3 separate regions of the Homo sapiens genome follow, and regions 1 and 2 are each linked to region 3. Evidence: fine-mapped expression QTL. A gene starts in region 3. Each other region holds a variant in brackets. All regions are shown on one strand. Distances are from middle to middle. Region 1 overlaps QSOX2 (quiescin sulfhydryl oxidase 2). Region 2 overlaps QSOX2 (quiescin sulfhydryl oxidase 2). Region 3 holds the start of QSOX2 (quiescin sulfhydryl oxidase 2).

What was found. PIP is the estimated chance that this variant, and not a neighbour inherited with it, causes the effect.
Region 1: its variant is fine-mapped to the expression of QSOX2 in whole blood (TOPMed, PIP 0.99).
Region 2: its variant is fine-mapped to the expression of QSOX2 in fibroblasts (GTEx, PIP above 0.99). The same link has a PIP of 0.9 or more in lung and monocytes.

Annotation. Positions count from the first base shown.
Region 1 is chr9:136,208,300-136,211,052 of GRCh38, forward strand. It overlaps QSOX2 (quiescin sulfhydryl oxidase 2), which reads right to left. Exons shown (of 12, transcript NM_181701.4): 12 at 1-976. The coding sequence ends at 429. Among named protein-coding and RNA genes, the nearest start is that of LHX3, 4.5 kb to the left of the region's middle. RefSeq lists enhancers at 136-687, 688-1,237. The variant G/A (reference allele first, on the strand shown) is at 1,627.
Region 2 is chr9:136,217,536-136,220,288 of GRCh38, forward strand. QSOX2 (quiescin sulfhydryl oxidase 2) reads right to left here. Exons shown (of 12, transcript NM_181701.4): 7 at 1,495-1,629; 8 at 1,144-1,273. Among named protein-coding and RNA genes, the nearest start is that of LHX3, 14 kb to the left of the region's middle. The variant C/T (reference allele first, on the strand shown) is at 1,273.
Region 3 is chr9:136,244,465-136,247,217 of GRCh38, forward strand. QSOX2 (quiescin sulfhydryl oxidase 2) reads right to left here and starts at 1,348. Exons shown (of 12, transcript NM_181701.4): 1 at 1,012-1,348. The coding sequence starts at 1,339. RefSeq lists silencers at 876-1,285, 1,316-1,585.

The sequences.
Region 1 (2,753 bases), 36 kb before region 3:
GCCAGGAGCCGCGGGGGGGATGGGCGAGGTTCTCCAAATACAAAAACAAGGCCCTGCAGGATGGGGCGGAGTGGAGGAAACGAGATGAAAGTGTGTGGGGAAGACTATCTGGCCTGGACTCTGCACCCTCTTTTCACATCTAGAAGAGTAAAAATACAGAAGTCTTTTTGCTGTAAGACCTGCAAAAGGAGCATGAACAGACTTGAGTACGCCAGGAATGCAAATATCCCCACAAAATTACCCCGTGTTCTTCCCTTGTTAGAAGAGCGTTTGTAAAACCAGGACTTTGAAGCCAAAAGGTGCCATCCGATGTGAAACCAGGCCCGCATGTTTATAAAATCCCTGATCATAAATATTAAAGCTGCAGGTGGCACGGGGCAGGGCTGCCTCCAAGGGAGCTTCCGCCGTGGCTGGCAGCACCCGGGCACTCACACGGCCGGGTGGTGGTGCTTGACCTTCCACCGCCTGGACCTCACCCGGAAGAAGAAGTACATCACCATGAGGAACAGGGATGAAGCCACGTACAGCACGACACAGAGACTCATGTCCAGGCTGGAGAAGTCAACCCCGAGGAAGGGTGCGGCCCCGCCCACCTCCTTGTGGGCCCCGGGCCCATCCAGACTCTGGAGTTTCCCGTCCAAGCTGTGATGCAAGCTCTCTGGAAGGGCAGGCCTGGGGCCCAGTGCACCAGGTGGACGGACGCTCTGGGTGTCTCGGTCTCCATGGGACACCTCTGGGGGAGTGAGTCTTTTCTCCTCTTCCTCACCCCTGGCCAGGGTTCCTCCTTCACTGGAATCCCCCTGGTCTGCGGAATACGTGTCTAAGAGGTTGTCGCGGCCATAGTGCTGCTTCAAGAATGTGAGCACGTGGCCTTCATCCCAGCTGGCCAGGCCCTTAATTTCCTCATGGCAGGCTGGGCAGAGGTCCGGAGTGGGCCACTGAAGCTTTGGAAACCGGGGATCCTCACTCAGATGGCCTAGGAAGAAAAGGAAGCGGGAGAGCCAGAGGGAAGGAGGCTTTGTGCAGCCACGTGCAGCGTGCGGCAACCGGACTCCCACTCCCACCCACCACGGGCCTCCACTGCCCTGGCCCAGGGTCCTGCCAGGCCTCCCTCCCTGCCCTTCCCACCACCCGTCCCTTGCAGTTCGGCCCAGATAACATCCTGCTTCTGCAGGCCCCTGCGCACGTGTTCCCCTCTGCCGGTTCCCATAGCCTGCAAGTGAGGAGACGCTACACGCTCGGCCTCCGCCACTTCCCAGACCACACCTGTCCCAAACCACCCAGCACTCCACTTCCAAAACGGAGCATGCAGCTCTCACCTGGAGGCCTTTCTCCGCACAGTGCTGCCTGTGTGCCCCTCCCCCCACTGCTGCCCCTCTGCCCTTTCCTGAGGGTGCACCTGAGGCCCACTACCTACAGAGCCCCGGCCACCTGGGTGCTATGGACAGTGGGCCTTAGGTGCACCTTCAGGAAAGGGCAGAGGGGCAGCAATGAATTTCCACTGCACTTCAGGTACACTGGCCCTTTCCGGACTACAAATCCCTTCAAGATCTCCAAAACTCGTTTCTGAAGTGACATGTGCTCACTTCCAGGCCCAACAGGCATCCGTCATGCAGAAGCTGCGGC[G/A]CACGGCGCCTCCTAGCTCTCGGAGCCCCTGCGACCCGACTTGCTGACACCTGGCCACCCTCACAGAGCTTCCAGAAGTGAATGTAAACACAACCACGTTTGTCTGGGGGACTTGAGACGTGCCTGAAATCAAGAGATGCCCTACTCGGGCCAGTCACTGACTGCGTGCTTATCCGGCCAACCGGCAGCAGGTGCTGCACACGAAGCCAGAGGGGACAAGCACAGACCAGTGGCACCTTGGTCAGAAGCTGCCAGAGCTTCATGTAGGACTGTCAAATAAGGCGCCAGCCCTGGGCAGAAGACCCCAGGCACATCTCCGAGGGGCCTCCCAGGAGCTTGGGTCTCAATGCACAGGCTGGAGGTGGGACTGGAGTGGGAATCTCAGGAGTGACAATCACACTGGGCTGTAAGGCCCCTTTCTGTTGCAGTCTCATGACTGGGGTAGTGGGGGCACATGCGGGCTGGGGCCACAGGTAGCAGCAGGGGCTCCAGGTCCAGGCAGGCCTGGCGAGGGTCCTGGTCCCACTGCCTCAGAGCCGAGGGCTCGGGGAAAGCACAGGGAGCTCTGTGGGCGGCGGCGATGCAGAGGCTGCCAGGGCGGAGAGACGGAGAAGCTGCGCTGACCGAGGGAACAAACCCCGCAGACACACAGCGCCTTCGTCACATGACCCCGGCCCCGGCAGTCAGGCTCAGGGCAAAGAAAAACCAATTTCTTTAGTGCTTCAGCTGTAATATGTTTTTCTAACACAGTGGATTAAATAAAAACCAATAGTTTAGTGGCATTTTCTATTCATCTCTATTAAGATTTCTCAGTGGAATTATTTTTAAGCCTAATTTTAATCTGCCACTGATTTAGGAACAGTTTGAAGTACTTAACTCTGAGAAAATACATGTGCCCTATTTAATTATTTTTTTTTAACAAAACAAAGCACTTTGAGAGGTTTGGTTTACGTTTGGACAACAGATTTCCATACTACTAAAATTCCTCATCAAAAATTAATTACGTTCCAAGCTTTCCAGAGTCAAAAACATCTTCAGAGTCTAACGGGCTACCAGTGGGTACCGATGGGGGAAGAAAGAGCCACACCCATTTCCACGGGGTCGAAGAGCCCCCGGAGTGAGAGAAG
Region 2 (2,753 bases), 27 kb before region 3:
CCAGAATCAAATTTATTTTAGACATCCAAGTAAACTTCAGAAAAATATTAAGAATAACTTATTAATACCCTGGCCTCAGGAGTTGCCCAGAGCACAAGTGTAAAAGCTCCAAGCCTAACTAGACTAAGGGGAAGACGGAGAAGCCGGGAGAGGAGAGCAGGTCTGCCTAGCGACAGCTGTGCGACTCCAGCGAATTAGCTGGCCGGCGGCCACCACCACTAAGAGCCACACTGTCCTCCACTAATATGATGGACAGATTAGCAGGACACTTTCTTAAAGGAAATGAGGCCAGCTAGAGATTTCTGAACTCTGGATGGCACCGTGGGGGAAAAAGCTGCCTGGGCAATGTTCATGCATTCATCTGAGGCACCTCCAGTCCTTCAAGATTTCCTGTACTTTTCACAAATCACTTTGTAAGTAAACTCTATCCAAAGTGCTCACTATAAATTATTCTATCATGCATCTTATTTTTGGCAAGATAAATATTTTAAGCCTAAGCCTTCTTGTCATTTAGACAGTAACAAGCAACCGAGCTCATGGAGTTACACCTGGCCACCTCCCTGGCTGGTCCTCTTCAGCCTGACCCTGGGCACGGCCAGGCCTGAGCTCTGTTGGGTGGCATCTCTGCCCGCTCCTGGCGACCCCCTCAGTGGTCTCAGACACCACATCTGTGCTGGTGATGGTGCTGAGCGTGAAGCTCCCAGGACCCCTCCCTGAACCTGGCTGGTGGGGCAGATGCACACCCCACCTGGATCTGCACAGCCCTTGCCTCTCCCTCTCTCTCTCCCCCCAGCCCCCGTGCAGCGCTCCTCTGAGAGCCAGCTGAGGTGTGTGTGGGCCTCCGCTCCCTCCTCCATCTACTCTCCAGGCAGCCAGAGCTGGGCTTTTCCAGCAGGTGCTCGGCTCACACCCCCGCCCCTCTCTACACCCACCGCCCCAGCCCCAGTGCTGGGAACAGCAGTGGACGCAGGAGGCACTCGGGAAATGGGTGGAATGAGTTGGGGCGTGGGCCTGGGCGACAAAGCAAGGTGGAGAGCACCTCAGCGGAGCTGGCGGAGCCCCCGCAGTGTCCGACGCCCCCCAGGGCCCACTCTGTGCAGAGCCAAATTCCCACATGCAGCCCAGACCAGCACCGTCCCAAACCTTGGCCAAGACAGTCACAAAGTCCTTGAGCGTCTTCAGCTCTGCTCCGGCCAGGGACTTGTGGGCTGCCAGCTCCACCCGCAGGAGGTAGTGTAGCCCTGACTCCAGGTCCACCGTGTACAGCTTCGA[C/T]CTAGGACGGGATATGGCAGCGTCAGGGAATGCCCAACCTTTCCCTCCACAGCAAGTCTCCCTGTCCTGGCTCCTCCCCACGGACTCCCAGGGCCCCTGGGAGGGCTCCTGAGCGGCCCTCACTGGCTGGGGTGGGTTTCTGAGTAAACCCGCCCTGCAAGCACGCAGCCTTCGGTCTACACGCACTGTCTCCGGGGGCTTCAGTTCAAGAGGAACACTTGCTTGTCAAATTCTCTCCAAACCACGATTTCTGAATTTTCTTCTTTGTGTGGCTTTTCAGGCAAGGGAAGCGATTTTTTCCTCACATCCGGCAATGACTTCAAATAAGACGAAAAGAAGGCCCGCAGAGGCTTCACGCTGTGAGAGAGGGGAGGGCAAAGGTGAGAAGAGCCTCCTTTATAAAATCCTAAAGTAGGAGCCGTGGCATTCAGGACAGCTCTGGGCCACCCCTTTCATCCTTTGGGCATTTATTGGGGCATGGGAGTCAGTGGGAACAGCTGACACCCCGCCTGGGCTCCGGCTGCGCTTCCACCTGGGGGATAAGAGGAGACACACCAAATCCACAGATTTACAACCAGTTCCAGTTGTAATAAGTACTATGACTCATTTATGTTTGTGGGGACCTTAAGGCGTTTTGTAAAGCTGGGTTGAGCATCTGCCAAGATGAGCTTTATTCTGACTGCGATTTCCAACACGCCTAAGAGCCTTCACCGACGCGCCCACAATCTGCCAGCCCTGAGTGAGGCATCTGGAAGTCGGGGCCTGGGGTGGACGTCAGCCCCTCCCTGATGTCAGGCCCCTGAGCTCCCTGCGTGCCCACCCTGTGTGGACAGGGTGGAGCTGAGCCCCCTGTGTGCCCACGCTGTGTGGACAGGGTGGAGCTGCCTTCTGAGGACACCCTCAATGCCATTATTGAGCACTTCAGTGTGACGTGGAGCTTGTTTCCAAAGACAGAATGTAGCAGTGCTATTTGCAAAAACATTAAAATATCTATAAAAATATTAACATTATTTGACACTAAGAAGTTGTCTAGATGATACTTTTAACACTAAACAAACATCTGGGAGTGGTTCAGGCCGCTCTGCCAAGTGCAGTGCTGTGCCCCAGGCCTGGAATGGGCCACCTCGTTGGCAGAGCCAGGCCCCCAAGCACTCAGAGCATCTCCCAACAAGCTCAATGGCCTCTGTGGTTACCCTGAATTCCAGCTTTATCTTTTGTATTTTCACTCATTTATCTATTTTTGAGACAGGATCTTTCTCTGTTGCCCAGGCTGGAGTGCAGTGGTGCAATTTCAGCTCACTGCAGCCTCAACCTCCTGGGCTCAAATGATCCTCCCACCTCAGCCCCTTGAGTAGATGTAGCCACAGACATACTCCACCACGCCCGGCTAATGTTTTATTTGTCATAGGCTGGAGTCTCACTATCAACCTGGGCTGGTCTCAGACTCCTGGGCTCAAGTAATCCTCTCATCTCAGCCTCTG
Region 3 (2,753 bases):
CAGCAGGATTGGGTGTAAGGCATAAAAACAAAGGTGCAGGAAGAAAGAGTAGCAATTTGTTACAGATCTTGCCCACTGAAACATGTAATTTGAGGTTAGCACAACACAGGAAGTCCTGCCAAACCTCACTGGGTCGGGAGGACCTCCTACTTCAGTGATTTAAATACCATTTTAAGGGAAGGGTGTTGTGAATGCCCCCTCCCACGCCAACTCTAACCTGTAGAGCAGGCGAGTAACTTCGTGACTGGTTAACAACGTGCGACCAGATGAAAGCACTAAACAATAAAGTGCGGAACACTACCAGCAGTTTGGTGAAAGATTTCTCAAAGGCTGTGCATCTGTGATCAAGGAGCCCACCAATGAAATTCTTTGTAGAGTTAAAAAAATTGCTTTATAGGTTGTTTTGGGGTATTATAGAGAAGTCTCCAGAGTATTTGGACTTCTAAGTTGTGGGTTCACTTTGAGCACCCACTATATGGCCAGCGATCCGAACCAGAAAGTTAATGATGAAGGTTCAAAGGGAATGGGGTGGCTACGAGTGTGGAATAGGAATGAGGGATCCTCAGAGAACAGGAATTCTGGGCACTGGGGATGGGGTGTGTGGACGCTAGGAAACAGGTAGGGTAGGAGGCCTGGAAGGTCAATGAAGTTCTTGGGGCTCAAAACATAGGTATTTTGAGAGCTGGGATACGGGAGGGCTTCCCTATCCCCAAGCGTGCGGTGAGGGCTGCGGGAGAATGGTTTCATTTTGACTTCAGACAGCCCAACTCGTCAGGATCTAACGGGGATTAACTGGGAGAGACATGGGGAGCAGCTGGCTTAGTCTCCCGCCCCTGGAAAGGCCAGGGTTGGTCCGAGTCGGGTGCCTCTGTGGGGCAGGGACTGGCTCTGCGGTAAGGAAAGAAATACGGGGGAGGGGCCCCGGGACCCGCCTTCTGGGGCGGTCGCAAGGGGTCCCGGAAGGCCGCGGTCCCGGGGGTCGGGGGGTCCCCGCGCGGGGGCGCGCCTCACCTCGCACATCCCCAGCCAGGGCCCGCCAAGTGGGCGCGTAGCCGATGCAGTGGCCACACCACGACGAGTAGAACTGCACGAGCCACGCGGCCGAGCTGTTGGCGGTGGCCCCGCGCACGCTGCCGCTGTCCAGCACCCACACGGCGTCCTCGCCCGCGCGGTACAGCCGCGCCGCACCGCCCGCGCCCGGCCCCACCGCCGCCGCCGCTAGCAGCACTAGCAGCCGCGGCAGCCGTGCGGCCCGCGGCGGGGGCGAGCGCCGGGCTCTCAGCGCAGGTCCCGCTCCGATTCCCGGGCTGCGCGCCACCGCCGCCCCGGCCGCCGCCATGTTGGAAGTGCCGCCGGCGCGCTGAACTTTCACCCTGGCAACCACCGTCACGTGCGCCGGCGCGCCCGGCCCCGCCCCCGCGCGCCCAGTTCTGTTCCGCCCCGCCCCCTCACGTCTGACCCCGCCCTCTCTCCCCGCCCCCGCCCCCGCCCATGCGTGGCAGCCCCGCCCCCAAGAGTCTGATGACGCCATCTCCCCGCCCAGGCGCGGCAGGCTCCGCCCAGGCCCCGCCCCACCCCGCCGCGCGTTCCCCAAACCCCTTCCCTGAACAGGGCCAGGTGGCCACATTTAGCAAATGGAAGTGCACGACGCCAGGTTCAACGTGAATTTCAGACAAACAGTGAGTCGGTTTTTCAGCCTAGGTCTGTGCCATGCCTGAAATACAAATTTAACAAGACATTCTTAGACGTAAAAAACTATTCCGGGGTTCTTTTACTTGGCAACCCCACCTGGGGCTTCAGAGGGTCTGCAAGCCAGCCTCGACTTTTTAATATGATATTGGAACGCTTAGAAAATGCAGCAAAACATCCACTCAAAGTCAGATGTGTTGTGTGCTACCTTTTAGGATGTTCCAGTCGAATGCAGCTTCACGGTTTGGAAATGAAATCATATGACTTTTTTGCTTCATTGAACAGGATACCTGATTTTTTTTTTTGTTCCTATTCCTAATTTTTACACATGTCAAGATTTTCTCTGAACTGTGTGACCAAAACAAAACAAGGGAGTGGGCGAGCCTGGGCAACATAGCGAGAGCCCATCTCTTAAAAAAAAGAAAAAAGCCGGGCATGGTGGTGCACACCTGTAGTCCCAGCTACTTGAGGGGCTAAGGTGGAGGATGGCTTGAGCCTGGGAGCTTGAGGCTGCAGTGAGCCGTGACTCTGCCACTGCACTCCAGCCTGGATGACAGAGCGAGACCTTGTCTCAAAATAAATAGATAACTGTATTGTGGGGTTCTGTGTAAGATTTTGTTTAAAAGGTTTTGCTGCTAACAATGGTTAACCCCAGATGAGAGGATTCTCCCCAGAGGGCCCCTGGCCAAGGCGTCTGCTCCCTTTTCCTCACGTCCTGCGTCTCCCTGTTCATGTTTCCTTCCATCACCCACGTTTCCTGGCTTCTGCTCTGTGCCAAGCCCTGGAGACAAATCAAGAACAAAACCGAGCCCCCAGTGTCCCTGGCCTGCATTTGGGCAGACCCCAAACAAACCAACGCGTAAAGCAGCCACCGCGTGCTATGAAAAGCAATGAAGCCGGACACGGAAGCAGGTGCCAGCAGGGCTGCCGTACAGAGGAGGGTGGGGAGGTCTTTGAGAAGGTGACCCGAATGGAGAAGGAGGTGAGGGAGGAGGCACACATGCAAAGGCCCTGGGGCAGAAGGGTGCTGAGCACGCTGGAGGAACAGCAAGGAGCCGGACCTG